Linked DNA regions of Homo sapiens: regions 2, 3 and 4 are each linked to region 1. The links come from fine-mapping of genetic effects on gene expression. A gene starts in region 1. Each other region holds a variant in brackets. All regions are shown on one strand. Distances are from middle to middle. Region 1 holds the start of TRABD (TraB domain containing). Region 2 overlaps TTLL8 (tubulin tyrosine ligase like 8). Region 3 overlaps SELENOO (selenoprotein O). Region 4 overlaps MOV10L1 (Mov10 like RNA helicase 1).

Region 1 (2,681 bases):
CAGTGAGCCTGGCGGCCTGCACGGCCTCTTCAGGGACCTGAAAGCTAGGAGGCTTCCATCTGGAGGCTACCGAGGCTGCGGGAGTCCCCGCAGGGAGCTTAGCACCTCCACAAGTTCCTGGTTGTTTCTGGGACGCTAGTGCCCAGACAGCTCCCACTCCATCTTTCTTGTAAGAGTTTTGACAAAGACACACGGCAGCTTCATGATAGCTCAGTTAAAAAGACCTTTTAAGTTTGGGCTGCGCACAGCGGGGGACGATCTGGCGTCCACTTCGCCCATATGGGAACCCCGCTCTGCTCCAATTGAAGGGCAAAGGCACCTACAGAAGAGCGAAGCCCCAGGTTTCAGCGGGGCCGGAGGGGACAACGGGGGTCCGGGGCCTCCCGCTCGGCCTCCCCCAGCACCCCCAGAGACCCGCAGGCCTGGGCCGCCTTCCTCCACTCTCACCTCGGCCGGCTCCACCGCAGGCGGCAGGCGGGGGTGGCTGGGGCCCTCCCGACCCGCGAGGACCCTGGGACTCGAGGTCCGACCCGCGCCTTCCCGCGAGGCCGCCGCTGACCCTCCCCGCCCCAGCCCTGGGGGGCTCCGCTCCTCGGCAGCGCCGCTCCCGGCAGCGGTGGCAGGGGACGCGCGGGGCCTGCTCCCGCCCCAAACCTGACCCGGGCCTGACCCCCACGACCTGCTCCCCCGGCTCCAAAACCTGACCCGGGCCTGGCCCCCCCAACGACCTGCCACCCCGGCCCCCAAACCTGACCCGGGCCCGGCCCCCAACGACCCTGGTCTACCAGCCCCAAACCCTGAATCTGACCCTGGCCTGACCCCCACGACCTGCTCCCCCGGCCCCAAAACCTGAACCTGATCCGGGCCTGACCCCCACGACCTGCTACCCCGGCCCCAAAACCTGACCCGGGCCTGACCCCCCCCGCCCCCGGCCCCCACCCCCCGACTCGGGCTCGCTCCCCCCGCCCCCCACAGTCACCCCGCGGCCCTGACCCGGGCCCGCCCCCCGCTCGGTGCTGGGCCCCGTCCTCACGCACGCGCCGTCCGCGCCGCGCGGCGTACCGAGGCGAGGCAGCGGCGCTCCTCAGCCGGCCTCCATGCGGCGCGGGCCCTCAACGGACGGGGCGGGCTGGGGCCGCGGGGCGGGGCGGGGCGGACGGGCCGAGGGCGCCGGCGGCCGCGTGGCATGCCGGGAAGTGTAGTCCCACGCGCCTCCTGCTTGGCCCCGGCCCGCAACTTCGGACTACACTTCCCAGGGGGTAGCGCGCGGGGCCCCCGCCCCCCCCCCCCCCCCCGGCGCTCCCGGGTCCTAAGGAACATCGGCGCGCACTCAGGAGGGAGGGTTCGAGTCCCGCCGCGGTCACGGCCTTGCGAGGCGCGCCCACGTTCTCTGGTCGCAGCTCCCAAGCTGTGAAATGGGGACAATGCTCGCACGGCGTCCACAGGATGGTTTTCAGTCGAATGATATTGAAATGTAACTGTTCTGTGAGCCGTCAGTCCCGCACGAAAGGGACAGCCGATAGTGGGACGCGAGGAGCCGAGAACACGGGATCAGGGAACGCGCTGCCATGGCCTCGGCCTGGCCCCCTTCCCTCTGGGGATCGGCCTAGTCCGTCCTCCGGGGGTCGGCCCAGAGCGGTCCCCGACCCGGGACTCATGCCTCAGCGGGACCTCGGCCTTGCCGCAGGTTGGGGCACCCCGGGAAGGTCGGGCCCCAGGGGCCCCGCGGCCAGCCTAGCGGACGGAGAACCGGGACCAGGTGGGAGTCTTAGGGCGGGCCGACCCCCGGCCTCACGGACCCGGACGCTCAGTCACTTCCGATCGTCCGGAGGCCTCCAGGGGGACCCGGCTGGCCGCAGCCACGCCGACGCTAGACTCTCGCTGTGCGTGTTCGGCCCCGAGGGCAGGGGGAGACGGCCAGGCCCCACCCGCCGCGCCCGTCCTGCCCGGGCGCCCGGCCCCCTCGCTGTACCCAGCCTCTACCGGGGCGGCCGGGACCCGGCGGCCAAGTTGCTGCGCGCTGCGGGCACCGGCGCGGACGGGGGCCCGGGCGCTTCGCCGCCGCATGCAGACGACTCGCTGCCCGCAAGCTGCTGCGCCGTCCGCCTGCCCCGCTCTCCTGCAATGGTCCGGCCGCGCATCCCGGGCCCACGACTTCCTTCCTCCTCCACGACCCCGGGTTCTTGGCTGACCTGGCGCTGGCGCTGGGCTTAGTGCAGGCGTGGGCCTGGCAATGGTTTGCCTGCGGGCTGCATGCGCGGACCCCACAGCCAGCTCCCCGAAGCTCTGCGCCCACCTCTACGGCCCTGCCCCAGCCAAAGGATCAGGTTCTTGGAGCGGGGCCTGCCCTGGGGCCAGGACTCCAGTCACCGGGGGAGGGCTGCTGTGTCTTCCTGCCAGGCACTGATGAGTTAGTTGGGGAAAGGGGCCAGGTGGGGCCAGCTGGGGAACCATTTAGAAGAGGGAGGAGGGCGCACCTCTCTACTCGAGTGCCCTAGGACTAGCTCCTCTCTGGAGCCACGGGGAGGACCTCAGTGAGGGCTGCCCCACGCAGGAACCTTCAGCGAGCCTGGAAGGCTGACCCAGCAGGCCTGGGGTTGGGGGAGTCCAACGCAGCGCCCAGGCTTGGTCTGGGTCTGCCTGAGGCCGTCCACCAGGACTCCGTGCTGGGGAGCCTGCTT
Region 2 (2,681 bases), 140 kb after region 1:
CTGCGGTTGTGGTAACGGACCCGGTGCGGGAAGTCTGGCTGAGGCTTCATGTTCAGGCCTCCCCTGTGTTTTGTTGGCAGATGATACATGTGCCAAAGTCAAAGAAAATCAAGAAATGGCTTTGGAGAAAACAGACAACATCCACGACGTGATGGTACGTCCCCTGCATGCGTCATGGTCAGCTGCGGCCTCTCCAAAGCTTCTCACACCGTCGCCCTGCTCCGTGCCCACTCTCCCATGTCCTGGGGGGATGGCAGCCCGGCGAGGGCAAAGCCCCAGTCACAGCAGGGCCCCTTGACCGGGCAGCAGGGCCTGGCTGCCCCCAGGGGTGGGGCGAGCCCTTCGGTGCTGGATGAGCCGCTGTGTAGTGGGTGGACCCGGTGCTCCCAGCTCCCCTCCACCCACACTGGGCTGGCCTGCTGTGCGCATGTGGAAGCTGAGGGCACTGAGGCCCGGCAGGGCTCGGACAGCCCGGCTGGTGTGTTGCAGGATGGGGCCTGGCCAGCGAGTGAGCTCCTGTCTCCAGCAACACAGTAGTATGTGCCTCCCCACCTCCCCAGCCCAGCCTAGTCCCTCCGGGGCTCCCAACACTCCACCATAAAGAGGGCGAAAGAGAAACCAGGGTGGGAGGCGGCATTTGCAGTACTTAAAATTTAAAAGATCAAATGTCCAGAATATATGAAGAACTCACAAATCAGTAATGAAAAGACAAATAGAAAAATGGGCCCAGATTTGATGAGGCGCCTCCCACATGGCCAGTGAGCTCGCCCTTCCAGGTTCCTGGAGTCAGTGCCATTCCTACAGAGCATCCTGGGTGCTCCAGCGGCTCCCACAGGTCCGTGGGCAGTGGTGTGGACACATCAGAACATTCCTCACTGTTCTGGAGGCTGGAGTCTGGGTTGGGGCAGTGTGGCTGGGTGCTGTGAGAGTGTCCTGCTTCATGGACGGCTGGCTTCTCTCTGCGTCCTCACCCAGGGGCGAGGGTTTTTCTGGGGCCTCTTTTATAAGGGTGCTAGCCCATCATAAGGGGCTC[A/G]GGCTCATGACCTAATCCTAAAGCCTCCTATGCCATCGCCCTGGGGATGAGGATTGTAGCACATGCATTCCAGAGAGACAGAAACATTCTGCTCATTGTGCCTGGAGGACAGACAGAAGCAGGTGGCAGTTACCGGGTGGGGGCGGCTGGGGGACTTCGGCTCTGTTGACGATGCTGTTTCTCACCCCAGTACCCAGTGGTTAGTGATTAGTATGCTATTATTTACACACACACACACACACACACACACACACTTTTTTGGGGGGGTGTTTTCAGATGGAGTCTCACTCTGTTGCCCAGGCTGGGGTACAATGGTGCAATCTCGGCTCACTGCAACCTCTGCCTCCTGGGTTCAAGTGATTCTCCTGCCTCAGCCTCCGGAGTAGTTGGGATTACAGGCGCCCGCCACCACGCCCGGCTAATTTTTGTATTTTTAGTAGAGACGAGTTTCACCATGTTGGTCAGGCTGGTCTTGAACTCCTGGCCTCAGGTGATCTGCCTGCCTTGGCCTCCCAAAGTGTTGGGATTACAGGCGTGAGCCACTGCACCCAGCCTGGTTGGAATTTTGACTTAACACATGCCATTGTTATAAACAGAAAAGCACCAACAACAGGCCCCCAGCTCCACGACCAACCCCTCTATCAGCAGGGGAGGAGCGGGAGGCCAGTGCCTGGGGCTCAGGGAGGGGTGTGCAGGGCCCATGGTACAGGCCTGGGGGCTTCGGTCCTGGGGACTGTAAGCTCTGGGTTATGAAGTGTCGTGTCACCTCGGCAAGTGGCACGTCCCCACACCCACGTAGACCCCATGCGGACGGCTCAGACCCCACCTGCAGCCCCACATCGGGGTGGCCCCCCAGAGCCCGAGGCCCCTCTGTGGAAACCGTATGTGGTCCTGGTTGCGCCCCACATCCCATGTGCAGGAGGCCCACAAGGAGCACTACTGCCTGCAGCAGAGCCCGGCTGGGATCCTCACGCTGCACGCCATTTGTCCTCTGATGGTTGCCTCACTCCATCCCATCCTGGCTGGTGTGAACCTTGAATGCTGGGCATCAATAAAGACTTTTTTCTTGCCAGTCTAGGTTGGTAAAAAATGAGATGCCGTACCTCCTCTGGACCATCAAGAGGGACATCATTGACTATCACAGCCTGACCTACGACCAGATGCTGAACCACTACGCAAAGACAGCCTCCTTCACCACCAAGGTGAGCCGGCCGCGCTTGAGCGTGGCGGGAGCCGGCAAGGGTGGTGGGGAGGAGCTTCTGCAGCCATTAGGGACCCTCGGTGGCTGGTCAGTGGCCACCAGTCACCTCCTGGGTGCATCCCAGGACTCCTGGTCTAAGGCCGTGGCCAGAATCACTCGGTGCCCACCCCACCCCCAGCACCCCTGTGCCCTTTGCTCTGTGTCTCTGGGTGAATCCGGGGCCCCAGAAGCTCCCTCCTCAGGGCACAGAGGCCAAAGATGGGGCTGACTGGGGGCTGCCACCGGGCTTTGGGTGCTGAGGGGGCTGTGGGACCCCAGGGGAAGAGGTGCCGCTCCCCCCAGCACCGGGCACTCCCCCGCCTCCCCCGGCCTCCAGCCCTGCACAAAGCAGCTTGCCACACCCTTCCCACCAAGGCCCAGGGCTGAGGCCTGCCCAGGACGCAGGGT
Region 3 (2,681 bases), 28 kb before region 1:
GCAGAGGCTGCTGCCCGGCCCTCACATCCTCACAGTCACAACTGCCTGCTTTGGGAGCTAGCGAGTGTTGAGAAGCTGCTGTAACCCGCCTGCAAAAGGCCCAACTTGTGACAGACACTGCGATCCTCCCCCTGACTCTGGAAAACACTGTCTGAAACCACAGTGACCCTAAGACTGTCTTAAAAACAAAATGAGAAGGGAGTCAAAGCAACGTACTGCAAAAAAGTCGACTACACACAAAGGTAGCAAGGGAGAACGTGAGCGACCAGAAACATGGCAGAAGCTCCCCCTCAGTAACTGCTTTGAAAGCGAATGGACTGATCGCTCCAACAAAAGGCAGATTGGCAAAGTGGGTGAAAAGACGATTTCCATGTTGTCACCACACGATCTGCAAGACGTTCAAAGACACGAACAGGCTGGAAGTGAAAGGATGAAGAAACCCAGGCAAAGAGTAACCTAAAGAGAGCTGAGGCGACTCTTAAACTCACAGCAGATAAGTTTTCTATTTTTTGAGACGGAGTCTTGCTCTGTTGCCGGGGCTGGAGTGCAGTGGCGCAATCTCGGCTCACTGCAACCTCCGCCTCCTGGGTTCCAGCAATTCTCCTACCTCAGCCTCCCGAGTAGCTGGGATTACAGGCATCCGCCACCATGCCTGGCTAATTTTTGTTTTTTGAGATGGAGTCTTGCTCTTGTTGCCTAGGCTGGAGTGCAGTGGCGTGATCTCAGCTCACTGCAACCTCCGCCTCTCCTGCCTCAGTCTCCTGAGTAGCTGAGATTACAGGCACCCACCACCATGCCTGGCTAATCTTTGTATTTTTAGTAGAGATGGAGTTTCACCATGTTGGCCAAACTGGTCTCGAACTCTTGACCTCAGGTGATCTGCCTGCCTCGGCCTCCCAAAGTGTTGGGATTACAGGCATGAGCCACCATGCCCGGCCAGAGAAGATTTTAAATAAAAAATTGTCAGAAGGGCCGGGAAAGGTGCTCACCCCTGTAATCCCAGCTACTTGGTAGGCTGAGGCAGGAGGATAACTAGAGCACAAGAAGTGGAGGCTGCAGTGAGCCGCAGCTGTGCCACTGCACTCCAGCCTGGGCAACAAAGTGAGACACATCCACCCTCAACAAAAAGTCGTTACAAGAGACAGCATTATATATGGATAAAAGAGTCAATTCATCAATAAAAATGTAAAAATTATAAACATGCACCCAATAAGAAAGCCCAAAAATGTAAACGTTGGCAGAATGGAAGGGACAGACAACAAACAGTTCTATCTATAGTAAGAGTTGGAGACTTAAACACACCACTTAATAATGGATAGACCATCTAGGGTTGGGAGCGGTGGCTCATGCCTGTAATCCCAGCACTTTGGGAGGCCGAGGCAGGTGGATCACGAGGTCAGGCGATCAAGACCATCCTGGCTAACACGGTGAAACCCCGTCTCTACTAAAAATACAAAAAA[AT/T]TACCCGGGCGTGGTGGCAGGCGCCTGTAGTCCCAGCTACTCGGGAGGCTGAGGCAGGAAAATGCCGTGAACCTGGGAGGTGGAGCTTGCAGTGAGCTGAGATCGCGCCACTGCACTCCAGCCTGGGTGACAGAGCAAGACTCCGTCTCAAAAAACAAAAAAACCATCCAGACAGAAGATCAATGAGAAATGGAAGACCTGAACAACAGCCTAAACCAACAAGACCAAACAGGCACATACACGGAACCCTCCACCCAGCAGAAGAGAGCACACCGTCTTCTCCAGGGCACACGGGTACAGGACGCTCTGCCCAGCAAAAGAGAGCACACCGTCTTCTCCAGGGCACACAGAAAGTTCTCCAAGATAAGCCACAAAACAAGTTGTAATAAACCTCAAAAGGCTGACATCTCTAGTCACAATGGAATGAAGCTAGAAATCACTTAAAAACACAACACACTGGCTGGGCGCGGCGGCTCATCCCCAGAATCCCAGCACTTTGGGAGGCTGAGGCAGATCACTTGCGATCAGGTGTTGGAGACCAGCCTGGCCAACATGGTGAAGCCCCATCTCTCCTAACAGTACAAAAATTAGCTAGGTGTGGTGGAGCATGCCAGTAGTCCCAGCTACTTGGGAGTCTGAAGGAGGAGAACCACTTGAGCCTGGGAGGCGGAGGTTGCAGTGAGCCAAGATCATGCCACTGCACTCCAGCTTGGGCGACAGAGTAAGACTCCGTCTAAAAACCAAAAAAACCCACAACATACCAAAATTGATGGACACAGCAAAAGCAGTGACCAGAAAGACATGCACAGTGTAAATGGCTACACTGAAGAAGATCTCCAATCAGTTACCTCAACTCACGCCTAAGGAACTGGAGAAAGAAGAGCCAAGATTAGAGGGAGACAATAGACTGAAGAAACAGGCACACGCTGCGTAACTCCACTTACACGAAGATTAGAGGGAGACAATAGACTGAAGAAACAGGCACACGCTGCGTAACTCCACTTAAACGAAGATTAGAGGGAGACAACAGACTGAAGAAACAGGCGCACGCTGCGTAACTCCACTTACACGAAGATTAGAGGGAGACAACAGACTGAAGAAACAGGCACACGCTGTGTAACTCCACTTACATGAAGGGTTTAGAGCAGTCAGGTTCACAGACTCGGAGCGGAGTGGTTGCTACCAGGGGCTGCAGGGAGGGGAATGGGGAGCTGGTAACC
Region 4 (2,681 bases), 76 kb after region 1:
GAAGGCCTCAAAATCATCTTTGGAAAAAGGCATGAACCACAGATGGTTCCTGTGGATTTGTGGTCCTTTTTCCCAGGCATGTCCTTCACCTTGGCAAAGTGAACTTCTAACTTGATTGAGACCTGTCTCACATACCTTTTGGTTACAGGAGGAAAGGCAGGCAGGGAGGGGGTGGGTCAGAGCTGGGGCTGCCCCACAAGTAGGGAGCTCAGGGAAGCCTCGTCATGGCTAGCACACAAAGAAGAACACAGATACAGGAAATCTAATAATTTTTTTTTTTAATTGGAGATGGAGTCTGGCTCTGTTACCCAGGCTGGAGTGCAGTGGCGTGATCTCTGCTCACTGCAACTTCTGCTTCCCGGGTTCAAGCAATTCTCCTGCCTCAGCCTCCAGAGTAGCTGGGATTAAGGGTGTGCGCTGCCACGCCTGGCTAATTTTTTGTATTTTAGTAGAGATGGGGTTTCACCGTGTTGCCCAGGCTGTTCTCGAACTCCTGAGCTCAGGCAATCCGCCCGCCTTGGCCTCCCAAAGTCCTAGGATTACAGGCGTGAGCCACTGTGGCCAGCCAGAAATCCAATAATTTTAAGAACCAACTACATCCAATGCATTTTTTAAATGCCAAAATGTGAAACAACAAAACAGAAAAATCCACCCAAAACAGCAATCACCAATGTAAGATGAAGGATGAAGAGCGACCCCTAACTCCACCTTCAGTCAACCATAGAGATGGCTGAAAGCTTCCAAAAGACAGTCTTTTTTTTTTTTTTGAGATGGAGTGTCACTCTGTTGTGCAGGCTGGAGTGCAGTGGCGCGATCTCGGCTCACTGCAAGCTCCGCTTCCTGGGTTCACGCCATTCTCCTGCCTCAGCCTCCCGAGTAGCTGGGACTACAGGCGCCGGCCACCACGCCTGGCTAATTTTTTGTGTTTTTAGTAGAGATGGGGTTTCACCATGTTAGCCAGGATGGTTTCAATCTCCCGACCTTGTGATCCACCCACCTCGGCCTCCCAAAGTGCTGGTATTACGGGCGTGAGCCACCGCGCCCGGCAAGACAGTCTTCTTTTTTTTGAGACAGAGTCTTCCTCTGTCACCCAGGCTGGAGTGCAGTGGTGCAATCTCGCCTCACTGCAACCTCTGCCTCTTGGGTTCAAGTGATTCTCTTGCCTCAGCCTCCCAAGTAGCTGGGATTACAGGTGCCTGCCACCACAACCGGGTAATTTTTGTATTTTTAGTAGAGACAGGGTTTCTTCATATTGGCCAGGCTGGTCTCGAAC[T/C]CCTGACCTCATGATCTACCCGCCTCAGCATCCCAAAGCGTTGGGATTACAGGCGTGAGCCACCATGACCAGCCTCCTTTTCCTTTCTCTTTTTATTTTTTAAGACAGAGCCTTGCTGTGTTGCCCAGGCTAGAGTGCGGTAGCACGATCACAGCTCGCTGCAGCCTCAAGCTCCTAGGCTCAAGCAATCTTCCTGCTTCAACCTCGTGTGTAGCTGGGACCGGAGGTGCACACCACCATGCTCGGCTAATTTTTTTTTTTTTTTTTTTTTTGAGAAGGAGTCTCGCTCTGTCGCCCAGGCTGGAGTGCAGTGGCGCGATCTCGGCTCACTGCAAGCTCCACCTCCCGGGTTCACGCCATTCTCTTGCCTCAGCCTCCCAAGCAGCCGGGACTACAGGTGCCCGTCACCACGCCCGGCTAATTTTTTGTATTTTTTTAGTAGACACGGGGTTTCACCGTGTTAGCCAGGATGGTCTCGATCCCCTGACCTCATGATTCACCCGCCTCGGCCTCCCAGAGTGCTGAGATTACAGGCGTGAGCCACCGTGCCCGGCCTCGCTTGGCTAATTTTTTAATGTTTTGTAGAGATGGGGTCTCACTATGTTGCCCAGGCTGGTCTCAAATTCCTGGGCTCAGGCAATTCTCCTGCCACGGCCTCCTGAAGTGCTAGGGATGCTCTCCTCTTACCCCAACAACTCAGGGCTTGAAATGTCTACTATTTGGCTTATTAAAGTAACTCTTCAAAATATACTTATATGGGGCCTTTCACATCCCAAAGAAGAAAAGCGTTTTCTTTTTTTGAGACGGAGTTTTACTTGTCGCCCAGGCCTGAGTGCAGTGGCGCAATCTCAGCTCACTGCAACCTCTGCCTCTCAGGTTCAAGCAATTTTCCTGCCTCAGCCTCCCGAGTAGCTGGGATTACAGGCGAGCACCACCACGCCCAGCTAATTTTGTACTTTTAGTAGAGACAGAGTTTCACCACGTTGGTCAGGCTGGTCTTGAACTCCCAACCTCAGGTGATCCGTCTGCCTCAGCCTCCCAAAGTGCTAGGATTACAGGCGTTAGCCACCGCACCTGGCCAGAAAAGCATTTTCTTACCGCCTCTTCACTAGGGTCATACAAAGTGCCCTCCAGACATAGCATGACTGGCTGCTCTCCACCACCACTGCATTGACCACGTCACCTCTCCGGGGTGTGTACCCATCTGGCAGTTTCAAGGAGTCCAAGGTAAAGAAGATGCTTTCCTCTAACACCCCGTTCCTTCCACAGAGGCTAGAGATGCAGACCTGGGAGCAGAGAGCTGAGCGTCACAGGAAGCAGATGCTGCATGACGACAGGGCGCAGCTCTAACACACGCCCAAGTCAGCCCAAAGCACACAAGCTGCACCAGGAAGCTCAAGTCCGCCAT

The links. PIP is the estimated chance that this variant, and not a neighbour inherited with it, causes the effect.
Region 2: its variant is fine-mapped to the expression of TRABD in whole blood (TOPMed, PIP 0.99).
Region 3: its variant is fine-mapped to the expression of TRABD in sun-exposed skin (GTEx, PIP above 0.99).
Region 4: its variant is fine-mapped to the expression of TRABD in monocytes (Fairfax 2014, PIP 0.95).

Annotation. Positions count from the first base shown.
Region 1 is chr22:50,184,358-50,187,038 of GRCh38, reverse strand. TRABD (TraB domain containing) reads right to left here and starts at 1,126. Exons shown (of 10, transcript NM_001320485.2): 1 at 1,063-1,126. RefSeq lists silencers at 378-687, 954-1,323, 1,594-1,693, 1,884-1,953.
Region 2 is chr22:50,046,722-50,049,402 of GRCh38, reverse strand. It overlaps TTLL8 (tubulin tyrosine ligase like 8), which reads left to right. Exons shown (of 14, transcript NM_001350317.3): 5 at 81-154; 6 at 2,107-2,235. Among named protein-coding and RNA genes, the nearest start is that of TTLL8, 10 kb to the left of the region's middle. The variant A/G (reference allele first, on the strand shown) is at 1,034.
Region 3 is chr22:50,212,595-50,215,275 of GRCh38, reverse strand. All of the region lies in intron 5 of SELENOO (selenoprotein O), which reads right to left. Among named protein-coding and RNA genes, the nearest start is that of SELENOO-AS1, 3.8 kb to the right of the region's middle. The variant AT/T (reference allele first, on the strand shown) is at 1,461.
Region 4 is chr22:50,108,535-50,111,215 of GRCh38, reverse strand. MOV10L1 (Mov10 like RNA helicase 1) reads right to left here. Exons shown (of 27, transcript NM_018995.3): 5 at 2,372-2,559. Among named protein-coding and RNA genes, the nearest start is that of MOV10L1, 20 kb to the right of the region's middle. The variant T/C (reference allele first, on the strand shown) is at 1,274.